Linked DNA regions of Homo sapiens. The protein of the gene in region 2 interacts with the protein of the main gene of each other region in a pairwise test. Each region holds a gene or a part of one and is shown on either strand. Other genes may lie near its edges.

Region 1 (3,653 bases), on a different chromosome or scaffold from region 2:
TAGGGAGCATTCCAGGGCAGTTCGTAAAGTAGTTCCTCATTCATTGTTGCTTCGAAGAAGTATTATATGGATTAACCACAGTTTATTTAATCAGTTTCCTCATTGATGGATGGGCTTATGAGTTGTTTCCAATCTTTTGCCATTTCAAGTGCTTCAGTGATGACCTTTATGTTCACACACCGTCACACATGTATGTAAGATCACACATGTATGAAGGTAGCCTTCATACTGATCAGAAACTATTCTCTACGTCCAGGGCTCCAGAGACCTGTGAGAGTAGATTTTAGGAGAGAAATTGGGTAGCCACAAAGGAGACTCTTGGCATTTATAGCTTTCTTCCTGAAGGGAAAGCATGCTTTGCCAGCTCGTGGGTTTTCCTTGGAAGTCCCCTGAACCTTCTGGGAAGTATGTAATGACTCAAGCCAAACCTTGGGTGGCAATAGCAGAAAAACCCCTTATCTTCCATTCATAATAACAGTGCTTTTCCTCTGGATGTGCCAAAAAGATCCAATGAGGATCATCTCATCATCATGGCTGAAAATCACTTGCTGTACGGCAGAAAATGTCAATGACTGGTAATTCCTGCCCTGTAGTCTTAGCCCTGCAGATTAGAACAGGACCAGCTAGGCCGGGCATGGTGGCTCACGTCTGTAATCCCAGCACTTTGGGAGGCCAAGGTGGGTGGATCACGAGGTCAGGAGATCGAGACCATCCTGGCTAACACGGTGAAACCCCGTCTCTACTAAAAATACAAAAAATTAGCCAGGCGTGGTGGCGGGCACCTATAGTCCCAGCTACTCGGGAGGCTGAAGCAGGAGAACGGCGTGAACCCAGGAGGCAGAGCTTGCAGTGAGCCGAGATCGCGCCACTGCACTCCAGCCTGGGCGACAGAGCGAGACTCCATCTCAAAAAAAAAAAAAAAAACAACAGGACCAGCTAAGATGTGCTGCTAGTTCTTAAAACTTGAGTGCAAGAGGAAAATGATTAGAAACTAAGCTATTACTGATCTTGGCCCAAGGATGTCCTCCCTCCCCGCAAAGACTGAAGAGGTGACTTTAGCAAAAGAGCTTCTCCTAAGGGCAATGTGAGTATGAGAAAAAGTTTGGAACAAAAATAGGAAGCAATGGAGCAAAACCAAAAAGAGAGGAAAATGAGAAGAACTTATCCTGTATACAGTTATAAGGAAATGGTGATAGAATTTTATAAGCAGGGCTTATAATTAGGAAAAAGCTAACATTTCCTAGGGATTAGGAGAATAGACCTTTCAAAGTGACACCCTCCCTCCCTCCATCCTGCTTGGGGCCAGTTCTGTGTCCTGTGCGGGGCTTGGTGACTCTGGACCCTCCTTGCCTGCCAACTGCTGCTGGCCTGAAGCCCGTTTCCTCCCCAAGCTGGAGCTGGGCCTCCTAACTGCCCCCAGTTGTTCCCAGGTGTTAGTTGTCCACGGTTCTCAGGAACTCCCATGGAAATCCTCTGACTTCTTTTTCTTTCTGTGAGCACTTGCCCTGGGTAGAAAGCGTAGCTTTTGTGAAGCAAGTCCCATCCCTTGTCACTGAGCCCCAAGACACATCTGGATCTAGACGACACACAATGGGCTGACCAGAGAGCCAGGGGATACTTTAGGATGTGTCTTGGGCAAAACTCATTTCTGAAGACTGTAATGAGCAGCAGAGGCAGATGCTCCTGGGCCCTGGCAGAAGCGAGGTGATGCGAGTCACCAGGGCGCTTCATGGAAGGAGACTCTTCAATAGTGTCCTCGAATCCCACTCTCCCATTGCCAGAATTCCCAGCTGTTTGTGTCTAGGGTGGCCTTTGACATCGACCTTTCTCTTCTGTCTCTCAGCATCTCCCCATGACCCACTGCTGCCAAAAACTACCTTTTTCATTTTTTTTAAATTACTATTTATTCTTTTGGGACAGAGTCTCACTCTGTCAGTGATCTCAGCTCACTGCAACTTCTGCCTCCTGGGTTCAAGTGATTCCTGTGCCTCAGCCTCCCAGGTGGCTGGGATTACAGGTGCCCACCACCGTGCCCAGCTAATTTTTGTGTTTTTAGTAGAGACAGGGTTTCGCCATGTTGGCCAGGCTGGTCTCAAACTCCTAACCTCAAGTGATCCACCTGCCTCGGCCTCCCAAAGTGCTGGGATTACAGGTGTGAGCCACCACGCCTGGCCCAAAATCTTTTTTTTCCTTTTTTAGAGTCGGGGGTCTCACTCTGTTGCCCAGGGTGGAGTACAGTGGCATGATCATAGCTCACTGCAGCCTTGAACTCCTGGGCTCAAGTGATTTTCGATCCTCCTGTCTCAGCCTCCCCAGTAGCTGGGATCACAGGTGTGTCCAATCACACCCAGATAATTTTTTCATTTTTTACTAGAGACTGGCCCTCACTATATTGCCCAGGCTGGTGTCAAACTCCTGACCTCAAGCCACCTTCCAGCCTTGGCCTCCCAAAGTGCTGGGATTACAGGTGTGAGCCACCGCACCTGGCCAAAATATCTTTTTAAAGCATAAGTCTATCAACTTCCTGCTTAAAAATCCTTCAATAAATTTCCAGTGTATATGGGATTAAATAAACATCCCCACACCTCGCACCTGGGGTCCTTCATGGCCTGGTCTTGATTTCCTGTCACTCCCTTCTGTTTTAGTGCCTTAGGCTCCCGACTTTCAGTTCTTCCAAACTTGCCCTGTTATTTAAAAGCCCTGAGATTTTTGCAGGACAGCTACTATTCCTTCAAGAATCTAACCTGCCTTCTCCCTGAAAGGGAGAGCCTGCCTTCTCCCTGAAAGAAGTTCTGTCTCTTTCTCCTGAGACTTTTTTTTTTTAATTTTATTTTTTAGACAGAGTCTTGCTCTGTCGCCCAGGCTGGAGTGCAGTGGCATGATCTCAGCTCACCGCAACCTCTGCCTCCTAGATTCAAGCGATTCTCCTGCCTCAGCCTCCCCAGGAGCTGGGATTACAGCCACGCCCAGCTAATTTTTGTATTTCTAGTGGAAATGGGGATTCGCCATGTTGGTCAGGCTGGTCTCGAACCCCTGACCTCAGGTGATTCTCCCGCCTCGGCCTGCCAAAGTGCTGGGATCACAGGTGTGAAGCACCGCGCCCAGCCCCCTCTTGAGATTAATTTGTTTCCCAGACCTTCTGTTAGCAGCCATCCCTTTTGACAGTAAAAGCCTGTATGGGTGCCTCTCTTTTCTCTGGGCCACTATAGCTTAAGGGAAAGGCTGTATCTTATCTTACTTACACGTACATAACAATTCTACAAATGATCAGGGCTCGGCTCATTAAACACTTGCTAAATAAATGAGTAAGTGAGTAAATAGATGAGTGTGGGCTTGATCTCCTGATCAAGATCACACCGCTGCACTCCAGCCTGGTCAACAGAGCGAAACTTGGTCTCAAAAAAAAAAAAAAAAAAAAAAAAAAAAAAATAGATGAGCATGGGAAGAGGCACAGTAATTGCTAGAAAGCAGAAAACTAAAGGAGCTCCTTCAAGAGAATGAAACATAAGTATCCTTTTCTGAAATGCACACGGACACTCTTCAGCATCAGTGACTAAAATTTAGGTGATTGCATGGAACAGTGAGCACATTACCCATGCCGTCTCAGTTACTTGGACCAAGCTACTAATAAAGTCAGAGGCATGGGTTAGATG
Region 2 (3,653 bases):
CTGCTCACCTAAACCCTGGCCTTGCCTGGTAATTCCATCCATGCGCCTGGAAGGCCCCAGACATCAAGGCTCTGAGGGGCCAGGCACGGGGAGAACCCAGCAGTGCCCTGCCCTGCAGTCTGAGCTACCAGATTCCTTGTGAAGATAATTTGAGGACCATGACTCACCCAACCACATTTCCTGGGGCCTCAAATTGAAAATTCAGGATGGGCTTTTCTATATGACTGGCTGATATCCAACTATGCCATGGTCTTTACATGCCATGAACATTCTTTCCTGCCAGAGTTCTAAGAATCTGTGTTCTCTGCCTTAGACCTTCTGCAGATGAGCCCACAGGAAGCTCCACGTGTAGCTGAGCTACATGCACCAGGCCTCAGTTTGCCCCAAGTCCCCTGTGTACTCTCTCATGGCCTGTGGCCAAGAAATGTATTCTCTCACTTTGGACTTAGGAGTCCAAAGAGAAGCCCAGAAACAAAATTGCTTGAACTTGAATTTGTGTGCGTGCGCACGTGTGCACGTGGTGGTGAAGGTGTATGTTTTCGGCTGTTCTATGCGTCACTGTCACCAAACTCCCAAATAATAGTAACATTTGTTTAGATGATGTCTGCTGACAAATCACAAACACGACGCTAACTCGCAACTCTCTGCTCCACTGGCACAGAATAGGGCATGGAGCCTGGTGCTGGGTGTCAGCCCATGGTGTTGGGTGTCAGTTCACAGGCTGGGTAAGGGAGGGAAAATAATCCATTCTTTGATATTAGACATGACCCAAAATTTCCTGCTGGCAGCCAAAGGCCTCCTCGCTCAGAGAAGTCATCTGAAAAAAGCTAGCCCAGGGGCAGGAAAGGGCCTCAGGCTGGCGCCCCAGAAGGTGGCCCATCAGTCACTCTGGGAAGACAGATAGACATCGTCAGTCTCTTTTTACAAGTCAAGACAGTAAAATCAAAGTAATAGTTTCCTGGCAGGAAGAAAGAGAATTGCTGGAGCGTTGGAGAGCCATCTCTTAACCTCTGGGGTGACTCAAAGGAAGAGTTGCCTGGTCTGAGAACTTTAGACCAAAGAATTTAAATCATGTGAACTGAAAATGCATGTGTATCCATATATACATGTACATATATGTTTATATACCCAATATAGAAAGGTTACCAGAGACAAAGAAATAGCAACAATAGTTGTTTTGGGGAAGGGAAAGGAAGGGCTGTGGGGTGAGGAAGCATACTTTCACTGAATATCCTCTGTACTGTGTGCATTTTTGCCACATGCATGAACTAAACCTACAAGAAAATAAACAAATAAAAAAAAAGAACACACAGGTGATCCTTTAAGAGAACAGAAGAAGGGATGTTATAACCTCTAAGGAGGCACAGTCTCTAGCAAACAGGCACCTGATAAATACATGTTGAATGGATGAAAAAATGGATTATCTCTTTAATTCAGGGGCATCAGTTTGGAGACAGTAACTTCCAGGACCAGTGGCAGGAGGAGATTCAAGGTGGCTAGGAAAGCTCCTCAAAGCAAACACCAGGGTGCCTCCCTATCCCCAGCCCTTCCCTGTCCCAAAGACAAAGGATAGAAGCCCAGGCATGGCCTATCTTCCTGCTGGATACATTGCCTAATTCAAAGAGAGCTACCAATTCAGTGCTGTCACAAGTCAAAGATTTGAGACGCTAAAATACAGCATCATCAAAAGTCAAGTAAGAATTAAGGTCGGGCGCGGTGGCTCACGCCTGTAGTCCCAGCTACTTGGGTTGCTGAGGCACGAGAATTGCTTGAATCCAGGAGGTGGAGGTTGCAGTGAGCTGAGATCACACCACTACACTCCAGCCTGGGCAACAGAGTGAGACTCTGTCTCAAAAAAAAAAAAAGAATTAAGCAAATGTTAAGAAGGACCACACCTGCATCGCTATGAAGCAAAGTGTGACGTTTAAGCTGGCCCTTTCATGACCCTTGAGGACAAGTAATTCCAGCCCTGTGGCTGGCAGCCAGAGTGCAGCTCCTAAAGTCTTTCCTGTCTTAAAGGGGACAGAAAAAGGGAGGTTCCACTGGCAGCTGAAGCAGAGCCTGGAGGCACTGGGGTCAGAAGGACGGCAGATTTCTCTTCTCTGCCGTGGGCTCAAATGCATTCAGGGCTTCTGGAATACAGACGGACAAGTCTATTGTTGTCCCTCCATGACCTTAAGACTGCGATCCCCTGGCAAGCTCTTCAGTCTTCAAGAGTCTGGTGCGGCAGAAGGTCCTCCTCCTACCCCACACCTCTATGGCCCTGCTGGGATTCTCATTAACGGTGGGCCCCGCCTCCTGTGACCCAGGCTCTGACCCCGGATCTCTAGGTGCAGGGCAGCCCCACAAGACAGATGGGGGTTTGCAGAGCCACCACTCAGTTTGAGACAAGGGACCATCAGGTCCTACCTCTTCAAATGCCTACAGAGCCAGTCCTGGCTCCCTCCTTCAAGGCCTGAAGGTGGCACAGGCAGAGAGAAGCTGCAGGGAAGGGCAGAGTGGATGCAGGCGTCCCCTTAGCCTCTCACTGCAGCGCCCCACACAAGGAGAGCCCTCTTCTTTGAACTTACTTGGCTCTAGGGAATCATCGATCAATGCTGCAACTTCGGAAAATCCCTTCAAATTCTTTCCCACCCCTTGGGTCACATTTGGGAATTCCCACAAGCCTCTTGTCAAGAGACGAATTATGCTCACTTGCCTGTGTAACCCTGAGCCACAATCCCACCCCTTTACCCCACGTCAAAACTGAAGGTGTCATAGGCAGCCACAACTGGGAAAGCACAGGGAGCGAGCCCGCGGAGGGGCAGACGAGGCTCACTCCAAGGCACCTTCTCTACAAGAGTCTCTCCAGCCTTTGACGGGTGCAGAAACTAGACGGGCCCACCGAAAGCAGAACGGCACATCTGAGCCTGGATTACTCCACAGGTGAAAGTGCAGGAGAGAATATGTCTGTCTGCTCCCAGCACCCATGCCTGCCTGCCTACCTCGGCCTTATCCAGGCCCTTCTTCTGTTGCAGGCTGAGCACAGCCAGGTTCCAGTCTGTGTTAAGAACAGCACTCTCTGCAACACAGTGGCTCTGCCTGTTTCTGACCCTGTCAGGGTATAAAAGCTTCTGATACTCTCAGGTATAAAAGAGGTGGTGGTAAGTGATAACTCTGGTGGTGGGCTGGTCTGGGAGAGACAGAAGACCATAGGGAACTGGAAAGGGATACCTGTGAGGGAGGACGGCTCCTCCCAAACCTGCTCCTTAGGAAAGTAGGAGAAGCAGAGGTGCTTGGAGGCAGGGCACGGGGCCAAGGGGCCTGAGTAGAAGTCTGGGCTAAGCTACTCCACAGCTCGGGCTGAGGAGGAGATGCCTTGGGTTGGTCACCATGGTTCCTGCCTGCCAGTGCTTCAGAACACGGGCCTGCCTGGATCTGCTGGTGTCAAGGGGAATGGAGAAAATGGAAACACCCCACCCGAGGGCTCCAGATGCGGGTGGAAGCACAGGTGGCTGCCCAGACCACTTGGCTGGTAAGGAATGGCCTATGTAGTCATGGGCACAAACATCACCCCATTTTACCTCTTGGGTGGGAGGACAGCCAGAAAGGGCTTTAAGCTGACCCATTAAAGCAAAAGCACTTATGTATGACAGGTATCCACCCAGTCCCCA
Region 3 (3,653 bases), on a different chromosome or scaffold from region 2:
TTAGCTGACACTTCAATAGAGACGATCTCCTTAACATATATTTCTACTACTGAGATGGTTATCACTAAACTTTTAGCAGTATCACCAAAACTTTTCACCAGCCTCAATCCATCTTAAAAGTCTAAATATTCCAGGTTTCCTAACCCTTTGAACGTAATGTGCTCTATCTTGATCACATATCCAAGATTCAATATGAATCCAGTCCACCTTTTTAAGCATATGACCACCTATCACAAACTCCATTCTGCTCAGACTGATATATCCACTGCGTGGCCTCCAAAATGTATATTTCATATTGTACCTACTATCCTTTTCATTGGAAGAAAATATAATTTTCTGTAGATGGTTAACGGCTTCTAACTCAGCTAAATCACAAATCTTGGTTTAAAATGTATATCAGTAAATTTTCCTCCAACAATTTCACATGAATAAATCCTACAATAGAAATAAAGTTGTTTTGTAAGGCATCTAAAAAAGCAGCTAAATTTATAAAACCTTAAAATCTGACATTTCACGCTTTCTACAAAAAAGCATTAATTCATCATGAACTACACTTTAACTTAAATTTTATTCTGATTTATTGCATTTATTTTATTTAATAACTATCATTTTAAAAATTAAAGAGCTCTGTGATTTACTTATATATGTACACCAAGCAAATTATTCAAATAGATTGACATTAATGTACTTATTTAAAAGGAATACTAACAGAAGTTATATTCTGCATTGACCAAAGGTAATAATTTGAAAAGCTGTATAATCTAGATATTTTCATTCTAGTCATATACAGAATAGCTAATGCTTTATAAGAAGAAAAATAAATTAAGCTATTTTATTGTAGTAATAAGGAATTTTACAGAAGAGATGACTAAAATAAGAAAAACATCATGTATTTTTCAGTGTGCCTTGTAATTTTATAACCTATTAATTTTATATCTGAACATATTGCTTGAATTAAGGTTGAGTTCTGGTCTTAAATGACCCTTAAACATCCAATTAACATTTCCTGTTTTACTATTTATCAGACTTGCTTGCACTTTGATATATTCCACTGGTGTTCTTATGAAAACCATATGAGATTAGAGCAAGGAAATTTAAAGAGTATTTCTTCAAATAACAGGGGCCTGTTGCGGGGTCGGGACGCAAGGGGAGGGAGAGCATTAGGACAAATACCTAATGCATGCAGGGCTCAAAACCTAGATGACGGGCTGATGGGTGCAGCAAACCACCATGGCACATGTATACCTATGTAACAAACCTGCATGTTCTGCACATGTATCTCAGAATTTAAAGTAAAATTTTATATAAAATAAAATTATGAGACATCCAAAAAAAATTTTTAGTAGATAAATCTATAATTACCCAGTAAAAAGCAATGAGATTTTATGTTATAGAACTTTTCCATGAAATCTAATAATTATGTCTGTTCATATTAAAGTACAGCTATGAGTCAGAATGTTGGCAGACCTGGAAGAACCCTATAGCAGTATATATTTCCAACGATCATTTCACTAACATAACAGTCCAACTCAGTTTCCCCAATCCAACTCAGTATATACTCCCACAATGACCTCAGAAACAAGTTTTGAAGGCTAGAAAAAGTTAAAACCTCATTTTATACCCGAATATTATGTAAATACAAGGAAATAAACCCAGCCAAGTTTGCCAACGTAACTATCTTAGGCAAATTACATAACACGGCCAGTCCTTAGTTGCAGAATTCAAGATCCACTTACCTTGAAAAGCAGCCGCATTTCGAGATATTAGAAACTTTAATGTAGAGCTGGACGTTTGAAGAAACTGCTGCATATCCTGGCGAGCCGCAATCTGATATCTCTCCTCCATCTTCCTGGTGCAACATGTAGGCTTTTTGGATATGCAAACCTGAAGATCAGGTCCTGGAACACACAACATTTTTCAGAATGATTACCTGTTCATTTAACAAGTATTACATATTATATATCAGGCGTTATGACCAGTCCTGCACACAAAGGACTATGTGAGGAATGGATTTGCTAGAGTACTTGCTATAAGAAAGTTTATCTATTGCTCATTAACACAATCATAAACAAAATATTCTAAACCATTAACTCTTTGCTCAAATATTATATTAACTTCTTGGTCAAATATTAAGTATCTCCACTCAATAGAAAGCAAATTAACTACTATGAAGTACAGCGCTCAATCAAGAAAAAGGTTTTTTGTGGGTTTTTTGCTTATTTTATCAATTCAGCCAAAATTGCTTGAAAGAAATATGTTATAGATAATTATGTGGACTAAAAGAATTGCTTTTCATGGGGAAATGAAACTGAATTTTGAACATCACATAAAGGTCAAAAAACTTGACCTGATTTCTCAGCTGCCATCAGGCTCGTGCTGCTTGTGAAGTAGGCTATCTCTGCAATAATGACATGCTGGGAGATCAAGGCCCCCATGGGCCCAAGCTCAGCATCCAAGATTCCACTCACTATATAGCTGGCGAGAGACAATCCCCTCCTTTAAAAGCACTTTTTAGTTGTACAATCATGTTTAGAAGGATCCTGTGAAGATGTATATTGCATGAAATGTAAAGTTATTAATATATGAAATGTAAGAGTTATGGTTACAAAAAAACCTTTGCTAGTATCACTAAACTTTCATCCTGGTAGGGACCCAGGACAAGCACCTTTATGCACAGCAGATATGCTAGAGGACAGAGAGGAAAGATGTGGAGCACAAAGAGTTAGTGCCCAAAGAGGAAACCCTGATGGAGAGAGCTGATGTGAGCCCCAGGGCATTCCAAGGCTACTAGATTATAAGTAAAGCTCAGGACAATTTTATTTACATAATGGCCTAATACGGTTATTTCCTTACTTTAGAATAACAAGAAGAATTGTGGCCCTTAATCTCTGTGAGTTTCACAGGTTCCACATTAGTTCTTCATCAACTAATTTTAGATCAGTAAAATAGGTGCATGCACACAGACATACACACAAGACGCATGCACATAACAACCACCTTTCAAGCCCTTCCTACTTTTTCCACACAGAGTTGGCCTCAGGTCTCAAATTTCCAAAAGTTGGTTCTGGGTCAGCTGAAAATATATGAAACCACTCTGAGCTTCCTATCAACATGGGACACCAAAATCTCTAACGATTTTGGCTGTAGTTTAAGTCAGACAAATAACAAATGACAGAATTTTGACACTTTACAAAGGCTAAGAAGCATAAAATATTCGTAAGTGTCACAGTAGGTAACATTTTGGCAATCGTTTTTCACTTATCTTACCTAAAGTTACGTAAGAGCAAATTCTACTTCAAACAGTAAAATTATTTGAAAAAAAAAAAAAAGCTATCTTCTCAGCTTTATTCCTAAATTGAAGGATTGAGGAATTAGCATCCAGAGAAAAGCAATAATAGAGATTGAGGAAAAGAACTAACGAATAAATATTAAAGTATATAAACATATTTAGTGTAGGAAAGACTGCTGAGGAATAAAAAGAACAATAACAGCAGATCATAGCAAATATCTCTTTGGAATTTAAATATATAACACTGTTGTGTTAGACCAATTCCTAAACATGGCCTGTGAAGGCCTCCAAGTTGTGATCCTTCCTTTCCTCCCTCCCTCTCCAGTCTCATCTCCGGAAACATTGGCCTTTGTACTCTTCCCAT

The links.
Region 1: the proteins of DCPS (region 2) and CHST4 interact in a two-hybrid assay, tested with the Homo sapiens proteins (one large-scale study listed by BioGRID and IntAct).
Region 3: the proteins of DCPS (region 2) and GPC5 interact in a two-hybrid assay, tested with the Homo sapiens proteins (one large-scale study listed by BioGRID and IntAct).

What each region holds. Positions count from the first base shown.
Region 1 is NC_000016.10:71,529,320-71,532,972, reverse strand, and holds part of CHST4 (carbohydrate sulfotransferase 4), read right to left. Parts: intron 1-3,653.
Region 2 is NC_000011.10:126,338,539-126,342,191, reverse strand, and holds part of DCPS (m7GpppX diphosphatase), read right to left. Parts: intron 477-3,653; exon of another isoform or gene 1-476. UniProt on the Homo sapiens protein: Decapping scavenger enzyme that catalyzes the cleavage of a residual cap structure following the degradation of mRNAs by the 3'->5' exosome-mediated mRNA decay pathway.
Region 3 is NC_000013.11:91,447,006-91,450,658, reverse strand, and holds part of GPC5 (glypican-5 precursor), read right to left. Parts: intron 1,899-3,653; coding exon 1,737-1,898; intron 1-1,736. UniProt on the Homo sapiens protein: Cell surface proteoglycan that bears heparan sulfate.